3 separate regions of the Homo sapiens genome follow, and regions 2 and 3 are each linked to region 1. Evidence: fine-mapped expression QTL. A gene starts in region 1. Each other region holds a variant in brackets. All regions are shown on one strand. Distances are from middle to middle.

Region 1 (4,200 bases):
TTTTTTTTTTTTTTTTTGAGACGGAGTCTCGCTCTGTCGCCCAGACTGGAGTGCAGTGGCGTGACCTCGGCTCACTGCAAGTTCCACCTCCCGGGTTCACGCCATTCTCCTGCCTCAGCCTCTCCGAGTAGCTGGGACTACAGGTGCCCACCACCACGCCCAGCTAATTTTTTGTATTTGTAGTAGATATGGGGTTTCACCGTGGTCTCGATCTCCTAACCTCGTGATCCGCCCGCCTCGGCCTCCCAAAGTGCTGGGACTACAAGCGTGAGCCACCGCGCCCGGCCACAGATTCTTATATGTAATCTGGCCCCTCTCCATCTTCATAGCACTTACCACTACTGAAATTATTTTGTCCACTTGTTTGTTTACTCACTTATTGTCTGACTTTCCTCCTCTTTAAAATGTCATCTCTGAGGAGGGCAGAAACCGTGTCTGTCTTCACCACTAAAGCCCCAGTACTTGGAACGGTGCCTGGCACATAGTAAATGCTCACTACTGAATGAATGAATCTCCATCCCATAGAGGTGATTTGTATTTACAAGGGAGGACCACGAACTCCCCCAGCAAACCGTGAATGACACATTGGCATTTAACAGCCCGCACCTTTATTTATGATCCAAAGTCCTACTTTAAATCTGAGGAAGCTGCTGGTATCTCTGGACATTTTAATGGCACAAGAGATCAGTTATCACTTGGGGACACACTCCAGGAACTGGAGCCCAGTGGTTGTAGCAGGGAGCTAAGAGCCAAGGCTCCTGCGAACAGAACTTCAAGACAAACCATGACTTGCCTCCAGGTCCCTTACCCACACACCCTGTACCTCAATTTACCCAGCAGTTGGCCAGACATGTTCCTCTCAGTTCTGTGAGTGACAGGAGACAAAATAATTCACAGCTGGAGCATACTGAGATCCTCAGACAGGAGGTGGTGCAAGCCACACGTCTCATTATTCATAAAACTCTTGATTTGCGGCCAACACGGCCCCCGCCGCCTTCCCAGGGGCTAACCTGACAACAGGCACTGCTCAGACAAGTTCAGCTCACAAGGCAGAGGGAGGGATGGAGGGCCTAGCAGAGGCTGGGTGTCCAGACCTGAGTGTCTCGGTTACCAGGTTCCAAAAAAAGGAAGGTGGTTGGGGTGGGGTGATGAAAAGGAGGTGAGAGGTGCAGTTTGGGGCTCCAGGTGGTTAATTTTGCAGGTTCGTGCATACACGCCCGCCATCCAGGTGAGATATGTGCCCCCACCAGGTACCTTCCAGGAAGGCTCACCGGGGAGGGGTGGAATCGGGAGACGACAGTTCAATCAAACTACAGAGGGAGGAAGGGCGGCCCAGCGTTTAGTTTGGGGAAATATGGAGAGTAAGAGTCTCAGAGTGGGCGCAGGTGAGGGAAGAGGCAGGGGCCCAGAGGTCGGGAGGGCGGACGGGCGATGACAGGCACCCGGACGCGGTGAGGTGAGCAACAAGGTGGGCGGCGCGGACACCTGTGGAGGCGACCCCCGGGCGAAGAGTCAGGGAGGCGGGAGGTGGTCTGCGGCGAGAGGCGGCCAGGCCCAGACCAGGGCGCCGCGCCGCTGGGGCAGTCAGGGGTCCGAGCGGGGTCGGGGGCGCTCTCCGCGGCCCCTCCCCGGCAGACAAAGGGCTGGCCGCTCCCCCAAGCCCCGGCGCGGCGCGGCGCGGGCCCGGGCGGTGCAGGCGCGGCCCGGCCTCGGCGCTTACCTGGGCCGCCCGACCCGGCCGGGCCGGCAGGGGCAGCGGGTCCGGCGCGCAGCGCGCGGCGGCCTGTTCCGGGGCGTGCTCAGCCCGAGCAGCCGCTGCGGCGGCGGCAGTAGCAGCAGCAGGAGCGGCCGCCTCAGCCTCCGCCTCCCGCTCCGAGAGTCACCGCGGTGGGGAGGGAGGGAGGCGCCAGGCCGCCGGGGGAGGGACCGGCGGAGGGGGCGGCATCTGGCTCCGCGCGGGCTGCTGAGGCGCGGCGGCGGCAACGCCCCGGAGGGAGGCGGGCGCGTGGGGCCGGGCGCCGGGGCGGGGCCTGCGGGCGGGGCGGGGCCCGGGGCCGCGAATTGGTTAACTCAGCCTGTGGGCGGGGCTGCGCGGTGCGGGGCGGGGCCTTGTGGCGCATGTGAACGCTCATTGGGCCCTCCTGGAAGGGGGCGAGACCAGCGACATAGGGACGGGGCCATGCGGTGGGCGGGTGGAACACGGCGCCGGTAGTGAGTGGCCGAGTCCGCGCTGAGAGCAAAGGGGAGGAGCGGGCCGGGGGTGAGCAGGGAAGGCGGGTTGGGCGCGAGGAGGAGGCGGTGGCCTGGAGGAGGAGCCGGGTAAGGCTGAAGCTGGCGCTGCGGTAAAGCCACTCTGCGTGTCCCTATCTGCTCCAGGAGCACAGTGTTCCGGAAAAATAATGGCCTCTCCCACACACCGGTCTGTGTTTAAAAACGGGAGCAACAAGACGGGGCAGAATCCTTGGTGAGGCCAGTTTACCCAGAACCCCGGAAAATTCTGAAATGGACGAGGTTGCAGAACATTTAGAGGCGTGGTCTTCCTGCGTCGTTGAGCTGGGAACGTTGCTACCTCTGAGCTTGGGGCCTAACCTGGGATTAACCTAGCCCAGAGAGCCCAGGGATGGGCCTCCGTAGGTCCATTAAACTCAGAAGGTCGTGTGTACTGGTAGTGAGTGGATTTTTCGGGGGAAGGGTGCCCATGATTAAAATGTTTCTACAGAAAGTCTGGCTGTATTTGGAGAGGGTACAGGGAGAAGCAGCCCATTTTAGGTAAAATGCAAATTGCTTTTAACATCCGCCTTCCTTTTAAAGGGACCTGTATCTTTAAGTGTGGTCTCATTTTCAGCAGTTTAAATTATCAGTTACACAGTGTGACACTAACCCCAGTTCAGAAGCCCTCCTACCCTACTCCTCCCACAGCCTTTCTTTTTACACCTTTTCTGTACCATCCTCTTCCACTCCACATTTCTTCCCCTTCCCTATGCAAAAAGAATACGAAGTCCTTTTTTGTTTGTTCGTTTATAATATAATATCCACATTACTCTTTACTCATTTGGGGGGTTTTTTTGTTTTTGAGAGGGAGTCTCGCTCTGTCGCCCAGGCTCAGGTGCAGTGGCGCGATCTTGGCTCACCGCAACCTCCGCTTCCCGGGTTCAAGCGATTCTCCTGCCTCAGCCTCCTGAGTAGATGGGATTACCGGCATGCGCCCCGGCTAATTTTTGTATTTTTAGTAGAGACGGGTTTTCTCTATGTTGGCCAGGCTGGTCTCCAACTTCTGACCCCAAGTGGTCTGCCCGCCTCGGCCTCCCAAAATGCTAGGATTACAGGCCTGAGACACCGCACCCGGCCTGCTCACACTTTTTCATACTTAATAGGTCCCCGGCCGGGCGCAGTGGCTCATGCCTGTAATCTCAGCACTTTGGGAGGCCAAGGCAGACAGATCACCTGAGGTCGGGAGTTGGAGACCAGCCTGACCAACATGAAGAAACCCCGTCTCTACTAAAAATACAAAAATTAGCCGGGCGTGGTGGCGCATGCCTGTAATCCCAGCTACTCAGGAGACTGAGGCAGGAAAATCGCTTGAACCCGGGAGGCGAGGGTGCAGTGAGCCGAGATTGCGCCATTGCACTCCAGCCTGGGCAACAAGAGCGAAACTCTGTCTGAAAAAAAAAAAAAAAAAAAAATTGGTCCCCAAGTGGGTTTCTCCTACAGTGTCCCCACCTTCAGTAACTGGCACCACTCTCTACCCAGTTGCTTACACCAGACACTTAAATTGTACCGTTGACACCACTCTTTCCTTTATTCTTCATTTCCAGTCCATGTTGTTTCCAATTCTAAATGGTGTCCTTAATCTCTCCACCTCCTACCATCTCTACCCCTCTTTCCCAGTTTAACCTGCCACCAGCTATCACCTTGACTCCTGCAATAACCCTTCAAGCAGTCTCTCCTTTAGGCTCTCCTTACGCCCCCATTCACTGCCCACACAGCAACTAAAGGAAACTTCTTAAAATCTTGTCAGACCTGCGCTATTCAACGACTTCTCTTCATTTTCACGAGGAAGTTCAAAGTCCTTAGTGTGGCAACAAGGCCTTACAGGATCTGGCTACAGCCTGATCTTGAACCACTTTTGCCAACTGGGCTCTAGCCACATATGGGCCTTGTGCCTGTTCCTTGATCACAGGGAGCTCTTTTGTGCTTCAG
Region 2 (4,200 bases), 56 kb before region 1:
GTGAGCCGGGTCTCCCCCACAGCCGGCATGTGCTGACCTCCTTCCAACTGCTCTACCAAGAGAGGGAGGACGCACCCAGCTGTCGGGAGGGCCAGAGATGGAGGGCCCAACTACAAGGATGCAATGCACAAGACACACCTTCCACTTGGCACTAGAGAACCAAGGTGCTGCTAAGGGAATGAGCCTTGTCACCTCCCACTGCCAGCTCGCCTTCATGGGGTTCTGGCTTTACCAGCACAACCTCCATTGCTCAGAAGGGAAATAAGCATCTAGAAAGGGACACGAGTTGTCCAGCTTCCTAGGATGGGGCACCCTCGCTTGGGAAGCCCTATGAATCCTTCCCGTCTTCTCAGGAACATTCTGTTTTCGCCTGAGCCCTAGGACCACGCAATATCACTGCAGGCAGAATTTTCCTAGCAACCACAGAATCCAAGATTACATCATCCCCTGCACGGCAGCTGAGTTGGTTACCTAACAGATGCCGACTTTTCCTGAGTGCTGCTTGCCCAGCTTGCTAATCAGAAGGGGGCTGGCAAGAGTCTGTGAAAGGGGAGTTGTCAGCAGAAGATGCCTTAGTGGCAGTGATGGTGGCAGCCCGCTCACTCCTCTCCCTGCCTGCCCTGTGGCCTTTCGCTCAGGGACCTTGGGCCTCTGTAGTGAGCTGCAGGCACAAAAATAGCCCTGGATGCCCCAGGAGGGAATGGTGCATCTACAGAGGGAATGGGCCATTGGCTTCTCAGAGGAGCCCAGACCTGGGGACCAGGACTCCCGACTCCACAGCCTGCCCAGTGTGTGTGCCTGTCCTGCGCTCTGAGGGTGGGAAGGAAGTAATCTTCTCCAGGTCACACAGGGACTCTGATGGCTATTTAACAAGACACTTGAAGCAAAGGATTTGCAAGAGTCCTACCCTTCCCACACTGCCAGCTGCCACCCCCTTCCCTGGTGGCATTTATAGAGCCTCCCACTGTGCTGCTGGAGCCCTGCAGAGAGGAAAAGGCCTGAGGAGCTGCGGCCTGTCTGTGCTCTCTTCTGTTCCTTAAGGATATTATCCAGGCTTTACCACAAGGATCTGCTTTCCTTTGGGATGAAAGAGAAGGCAGGCTCTCAGTTCTTCCAGAGCATTCTCTGACCTACCCTTGTCACTGGTTGGCCAGGTATTTGTCATTCAATGAGGTCTCACCATGAACCTGACAGGCCTCTGGCCGAGGACACTGGTTCCCCTTTTCCTCTTCTCTATGAAATTTGGGCCAGTTACCGAATAGGGAGGGTGAGCTGTTAGATTATGATCATGACTCGATCCCTCAGAGCTGCAGTTTTAGAGCCAGGAGGGACCTCAGAGGTTGAGTCCTACAGTCTTTCCTTTGAAGACCAGCATATGGCAGCTCCCTCAGGTAGTCTCGCTGTCCTGGATGCACAGCAAAGAGGGCAGCAGGCCAGCCCACTGCCTCCAGGCTGCCAGCTGGGTTTCCTACCCTGTTTTACAGATGAAGCTCTGTCTCCCCCCTTGGTATCTCTGTTGACACTGTCTGAACTTGAGCTCAGAGCTTCTATTTGTCCCTTCCCACCAGATGCAAGTGAGCATAGGAGGGGAGAGGTTGATCTGTGTCTCCTGTTCCACACTCAAAAACATTAAAAGATAAGGATAGCCAAAACCCGATGACAGTATCATGAGAAAAGAGAACTACAGATGAGTATCTCACATGAATATAGATGCAAACATACCCAACAAAATGCTAGCAAACTGAATACAACAACATATAAAAAGGATTCTATACCCTGACCAGGTGAGATTTATCCCAGGAATGCAAGGTTGGTTTAACATCTGAAAATCAATGACTGTAAAACACCATATCAATAGGATAAAGGACAAAAACCATACAGGAAAAGCAGCTGATGAAATCCAACATAATAAAACCACTCAACAAGGCCAGGTGCAGTGGCTCACGCCTGTAATCCCAGCACTTTGGGAGGCAGAGGCAGGTGGATCACTTGAGGTCAGGAGTTCGAGACCAGCCTGACCAACATGGTGAAACCCCATCTCTACTAAAAATACAAAATTAGCTGGGCATGGTGGCACATGCCTGTGTTACTTGTGAAGGCTGAGCCAGGAGAATCGCTTGAACCTGGGAGGTGGAGGTTGCAGTGAGCTGAGATCGCGCCATTGTACTCCAGCCTGGGCAACAAGAGTGAAACTCCATCT[C/CA]AAAAAAAAAAAAAAAAAACCCACTCAACAAACTAGAAGAGAACAACCTCTATCTGATAAACGGCATCTATGAAAATCCCACAGCTCTTATCATATTTGTTGTGAAAACTCTCCCTACCAAGATTATGAACAAGAAAAGGATGTCCGCTTTCACCATTCTTATTCAATATTGGCTTGAGGTCCATTCCAGGTTAGGTAAGTTAAGAAAAAGAAATAAAAGCCATCCAGATTGGAAAGGAAGAAGTAAAACTATCCCTATTTGTAGATGACATGATCTTATATGTAGAAAATCATAAGGAATCCACTAAAAAAAAATTTTTTTTTTTTGAGATAGGGTCTCACTCTGTCACCCAGGCCAGAGTGCAGTGGCATAATCTTCACTGACTGCAACCTCCGCCTCCCAGGCTCAAGCAATCCTACCACCTCAACCTCCCGAGTAGCTGGGACTATAGGTGTGTGCCACCACATCTGGCTAATTTTTGTATTTTTTGTAGAGATGGGGTTTTGCCATGTTGTCCAGGCTGGTCTCGAGCTCCTGAGCTCAAGTGATCTGCCCACCTTGGCCTCCCAAAGTGCTGGGATTACAGGCTTGAGCTACTGCACCTGGCCCACTAAAAAACTATTAGGACTAATAAACAAGTTAAAGGTACAGGATACAAGGTCAATATACAAAAATCAATTGTATTTTTATATACTAGCAATGAACAATCAAAGTAAAATTAAGAAAATGATTCCACTTATAATTGCATTAATCATAATAAAACACTTAGGAACAAATTTAACAAAGTGCAAATTTTTATGCTTTGAATAGTACACAACATTACTGAATAAAATTCAATACATGATCTCTATCAAAATCCCTTTCTTGGGGAGTTTGTAAAAATTGCCTTTTTTTTTTTTTTTTTTGTAGAAATTGACAAGGTGATCCTAACATTCATATGGGAAGGGAAGGGACCCAGAATATCCAACACCACCTTGAAAAAGAAGAAGTTGGACTCACACTTCCCAATTTCAAAACTTACTACAAAGGCAAGGTCAACGAGACTGGGTGGTACTGGCATAAGGACAGACATATAGATCAGTGGAACAAAAATGAGAGTTCAGAAATAAACCCTCCAACTTATGGCCAGTTGATTTTTGACAAGGGTGCCAAGACAATTCAGTGGGGAAGAAATGAACAAATGTGTGGTGGGACAACTGGATATTCACATGCACAGGATGAAATTGGACTCTTACCTTGCAGCATCTAAAAAAATTAACCTGAAATGGATAAATGACCTAAATACAAGAGATAAAGTTATAAAAATCTTGGAAGAAAATATAGAAACAAATTTTTATGACCTTGGATTAGGAAATGCTTTTTTTTTTTTTTTTTTCCTGGACAGGGTCTTGCTCTGTCACGCAGGCTAGAGTGCAGTGGTACAATCAGCACTCAAAGCAGCCTTGACCTTCTGGACTCAATTGATTCTCTCACCTCAGCCTCCTGAGGAGCTGGGACCACAGGCCCACACTGCTACACTCGGCTAATTAATTTTTTTTTGGCCAAGGTGGGCAGATCACTTGAAGTCAGGAGTTTGAGACCAGCCTGATCAACATGGTGAAACCCCATCTCTACTAAAAATATCAAAAAGTTAGCTGGGCGTGGTGGCACATGCCTGTAGTCCCAGCTACTCGGGAAGCTGAGGCACGAGAATTGTTTGAACCCAGGAGCTGGAGGTTGCAGTGAGCTGAGATCGCACCACTGCATTCTAGTCTGGGCGACAGAGTGAGACTCTGTCTCAAAAAAAAAATAAGAAATAAATAAATAAAAGAAAAATTGTTTTGACAGATGGGGTATCTTCCTATGTTGCCCAGGCTGGTCTTGAACTCCTGGGCTCAAGCCATCCTCTTGCCTCTGCCATGTAAAGTACTGGGATTACAGGAATGAGCCTCCACGCCTGGCAGGAAATGGTTTCTTAGTTATGATATCTAAAGCACAAGCAACAGAAAAAAATAAATAA
Region 3 (4,200 bases), 470 kb before region 1:
CCCAAGTTAGCTGTAACTACAGGTGCACACCACCACCCTCAGCTAATTTTTTTTGTATTTTTTGTAGAGACAGAGTTTTGCCATGTTGCCCAGGCTGGTCTCGAACTCCTGGGCTCAAGCAGTCTGCCCTCCTTCGCCTCCCAAAGCACCGGGCTCACAGGCATGAGCCACCACACCCAGCCTCATTTTATAATCTTTTAAAATTATTTTTTCCCTTGAATATTCTTTGGGAAGTTTTTGAAGATATGGCTCTGACTTAGCCTGTTTTGTGCTGCTCCAGCAGAATGCCTGGGACTAGGTAATTCATAATGAACAGAAATGTATTTCTCACAGTTCTGAAGGCTGAGAAGTCCAAGATCAAGGCGCCAGCATCTGGCGAGGGCCTTCTTACTGCATCATCCCATGGCAGAAGACGGACGGGCAGGAGTGGGTGGGAGAGAAAGACAGACCAAAGGGGGCTGAACTCGTTGCTTTATAAGGAACCCACTCCTGAAATAATGGCATTAATTCATCATCCATTAAACACCTCTGAAAGGTCCCACCTCCCAACATCTCCATATTAGGGATCAAGTTTCCAACACATGGATGTTGGGGGACACATTCAAACCGTAGCAGGCACTAAACCAAGCTCTTTTCTTCCCCCTCCCTGGCCTCATGACCTTTGCTGTCTACCCACTTGGCACAGCTGCACTGGCCGCCCTGCTGATGCCCATCCACACCAGAGACACACCCACCTCAGGATCTTGGCACATGCCCTTCCCTCCAGCAGGAACACTCTTGAGGCCATCCCCACAGCTCCCTCCCTTCCTTTCAGGCTTGACTGACATATGCCCCCTCCCCAGGCACTTGCATGCATGTTCTTCCACACGTGATTCCCCCAGCTTCTATCCCCATCTGAAATAGCACATTACTTGTTCCTTATCTGCCTCCCCCTCTGGAGTGCCAGCTCTGCCTGGCAGGGATTTTTGACTCTCGCCTACTGCCACAGCCTGGTGCCAGCACAGTGCCAGGCATGTCCACCCTGCAGCATTTACTGAGTGCCCACTGCACACCAGGCACTAGTCTTGGATGCTTTTGCAAATGTTTCTCCAGTGATGGAGGAACTAAACTTCTTTAAACTCAAAGGAATCGTTGTGTCTTCTGATTCCTCCGAGAGCTTTGAGGAGCTGGGCCGATGCAATGTCACTTTGCTGTCTCCCTCCACCCCGCTGCCCTTCTGACTTCATATATCAGCTTTCCCAACAGATGTGGGAAAGTGGGGTCATTCCCAGGAAAGGCAGAGCCTTCCATGACTTAGGAACCCAGGTGTTTGCTCCACTGGGGCCAATTGCTCCTGGCTTTTTCTGAGCTCCTAGGAGGAAATGCATCTGAAATGCCGTCACCCTCCCCTGATCATTAACAGAGCTCTTGAACTGGCGGAGTTGTCAGCGAGGCAACCACAGGCAGGCAGGCAGCCATCGCACCGGCTTTGCAGAGAGGGCTGGAGAGCTGATGCCCATGCCACGGGAAAGGGCCGGCGCCTGAGCCAAGAGCCTGACTGGAAAGTGTGTGTAAGGGACACCTGGAGGAAGCAGGGGCCTCCGGCGCCTCCTCCACCGACTGGAACCCGTGGTGCTCACCCGCTCGCCCTGGGGGCTCACTACCCTCCCTGCCCAGAGATACAGTGGGGCTGGCGGCTCACCAGGCTTTGTGATCCCAATGCTCACGAGTGTTCTCCCAACAAATTGGAACTTCTTTTCTTTCGTCTCATTTGAAAAAGTCTTTTGTGAGCTGGCAAGTGACCCCAAAGTAACCTCTCTATTCCTGTCGGAAGGGAAAATATTTCCAGATCAGAGAGACTACAGCACCAAGCCTTGGCCTATATGAATACTTGATTATGCCTCCTGAGC[A/G]CAGTCTCCTGAGCTTGTGCCAGTCAGTTTCAGAAATGAGCTCTGGCTGGGGGCGGGGGCTCACGCCTGTAATCCTAGCACTTTGGAAGGCCAAGACAGGAGGATCACTTGAGCTCAGGAGTTCGAGACCAGCCTGGGCAACATGGTGAGACTCTGTCTCTACAAAAAAAAAAAAATTTTTTTTTCAATTAGCCAATATGCTGGTGCACACCTGTAGTCCTAGCTACTTGGGACACTGAGGTGGGAGAATCACTTGAGGCGGGAGGATTGCTTGAGTCTGGGAGGTCAAGGCTGCAGTGAGCCGTGATCACACCACTGCACTCCAGCCTGGGCGACAGTGAGGCCCTGTCTCAAAAAAAAAAAAAAAAATCAAGAGGTTTATTATTTGCCCCATCAAGTATTTTAAGACCGAAGCTTCACATTCTCAAGGGTATGATGTCATGAAATTCCCACGTATGACCACATTTTGAAAAACAGTCATTGTGTTTTGGAAAGTGAGAGGGTTAGCCTATAATGTGGAAGATAAACTCCTAAAGTGGAAGTTTGAGATGCACAGGCAGAATGGGCCGCCGAGCTATAGCATTTGCTATGGTGAACTCATGTGACTGCCCCAGAATTATCTGGAAGTTCAATGTTCATCTTCTGAAAAGAACTGGGACCTCGCTGTGCCAGCTGTTGTTGTTCTAAGTGCAGTGTAAGCAGGTTTCTATTTAAAACCTTCACACCTGGCACTTGAGTAGTGCTTGTTTTCCAAAGGGCACCCTCTTTCCCTTGGATTTTTTGCACCTTCTCCTTTTCTGTTAGTCCGGTTTATCTCAGCCTGCTGGCATGAAGAGAAGGACAGTTATAAAAGCCATTTATAAAAGGAGCAGGGAGGTAGTGGTCTTTTGTCTTTGCTGCTGAAACGGCTTGGGTAGATATACAAGATGGCCTGAGAAACAATGCTGGGAGTGAGGAGCATGGACCGGCCAGGGAGACAGGAGGAAAGCAGGTTTCCCTGTCTTCATGGTACAAAGAAGGCAAAGGCAGGTACTCAAGGCCATGCGCCTTCCTAGACCACTTGGGTGAGGCCTTTGGACACTCCCCTGGGTCCCAGCATGCCTAATCAGAAACTCCAGATCTGAGCCAGGCGTGATGGTGGTGCCTGTAGTCCCAGCTACTCAGGAAGCTGAGGCAGGAGGATCACTTAAGCCCAGGAGTTTGAGGCCAGCTGGGCAACATAGCAAGATCCTATCAAATTCCAGATCTGTCACCATCAGTTGTCTCTTGGGGAGAGAGGGGCTCAAGAAAGGAAGGAGAATTTAGAAGTGGGGTAAAGAAAGGCTAGAAACGGGGAAATGGGGGAATGCACAGCAAAAGCAATTTAAGGAAGACACCGAGACTGAGACAGGGATGTTGGGAAACAAGCCCATAGTTTTTTTTATCTTCTACATCCAAACACATCTTCATCACCTTAATTATAGACTGAGAAATGACAAGGCTAAAATAGTCAAGGGCTGGGAATTTAAGATTGTAAAATGGGTTGGGCGTGGGGGCTTACGCCTGTAATCCCAGCACTTTGGGAGGCCAAGGCAGGTGGATCACCTGAGGTTGGGAGTTCGAGACCAGCCTGGCCAACATGGTGAAACCCCATCTCTACTAAAAATACAAAAATTAGCCAGGCATGGTGGCAGGCACCTGTAATCCCAGCTACTTGGGAGGCTGAGCCAGGAGAATCACTTGAACCCGGGAGGTAGAGGTTGCAGTGAGCCGAGATTGCGCCACTGCACCCCAGCCTGGGTGACACATTGAGACTCTGTCTCAAAAAAAAAAAAATTGTAAAACATCTCACTTCTGACCTTCAGAGGGTCCTCCCCTTCCTCTCCCTCCTTCTCCTCCCTCTCTGTTCTTCACCTCATCCCCCCACCTCCTTCTCCCCTTACCCCTCCTCTTTCCTTCACCATGGGCACAGCCCGTCTTGGAGGAGCAGAAATCGCTCTGAATGACACTGGCTGGGACAGAAGTGCCCTGGGGTCAGGCCTGAAGCAGTCGGGCCCGAACAAGGCAGCAGTTGTACACAGGAGCTTTTCAAGGAGGTTTTGCAGATACAAGGACGTTGGACAGAGAGGAACAGAGAAATTCCAGAGATTTTTCACGTGCAAGCGGATATTTCCTTTGAGAGTTTCTAGACTAAATAATACTCCTTGTGTCTGAGGGGACGGTGTATACTGCTGACCTGGCAATGTTCTCTGCCTGCAGGATGAGCACAGGCAGGCCCCGCGCCTGCCCGGAGGGAGCTGTAAGCAGAGGAAGGTGAAGTGGCCTGAAGAAA

Direction of the effects. Positions count from the first base shown, and alleles are read on the strand shown. Sizes are in standard deviations (SD) of each study's normalised expression.
For the expression in monocytes after LPS of the gene that starts at base 1,895 in region 1, allele CA in region 2 goes with a higher level than allele C (moderate effect, 0.70 SD a copy in Fairfax 2014).
As copies of A replace G in region 3, the expression in iPS cells of the gene that starts at base 1,895 in region 1 goes up (moderate effect, 0.58 SD a copy in HipSci).

The links. PIP is the estimated chance that this variant, and not a neighbour inherited with it, causes the effect. A credible set is the group of variants that fine-mapping cannot tell apart.
Region 2: its variant is the best candidate, but not a certain one, in a credible set for the expression of CTNNBIP1 in monocytes after LPS (Fairfax 2014, PIP 0.53).
Region 3: its variant is the best candidate, but not a certain one, in a credible set for the expression of CTNNBIP1 in iPS cells (HipSci, PIP 0.55).

What each region holds. Positions count from the first base shown.
Region 1 is chr1:9,908,375-9,912,574 of GRCh38, forward strand. It overlaps CTNNBIP1 (catenin beta interacting protein 1), which reads right to left and starts at 1,895. Exons shown (of 6, transcript NM_020248.3): 1 at 1,721-1,895. RefSeq lists silencers at 1,443-1,502, 1,673-1,732, 1,743-2,342 and enhancers at 2,490-3,163, 3,164-3,836.
Region 2 is chr1:9,852,168-9,856,367 of GRCh38, forward strand. The region is part of intron 5 of CTNNBIP1 (catenin beta interacting protein 1); the gene reads right to left. It overlaps LOC105376717 (a long non-coding RNA gene), which reads left to right. Exons shown (of 2, transcript XR_946952.3): 2 at 3,111-3,325. Among named protein-coding and RNA genes, the nearest start is that of CTNNBIP1-AS1, 6.0 kb to the left of the region's middle. The variant C/CA (reference allele first, on the strand shown) is at 2,201.
Region 3 is chr1:9,440,128-9,444,327 of GRCh38, forward strand. No RefSeq gene overlaps it. Among named protein-coding and RNA genes, the nearest start is that of LINC02606, 13 kb to the left of the region's middle. The variant A/G (reference allele first, on the strand shown) is at 1,890.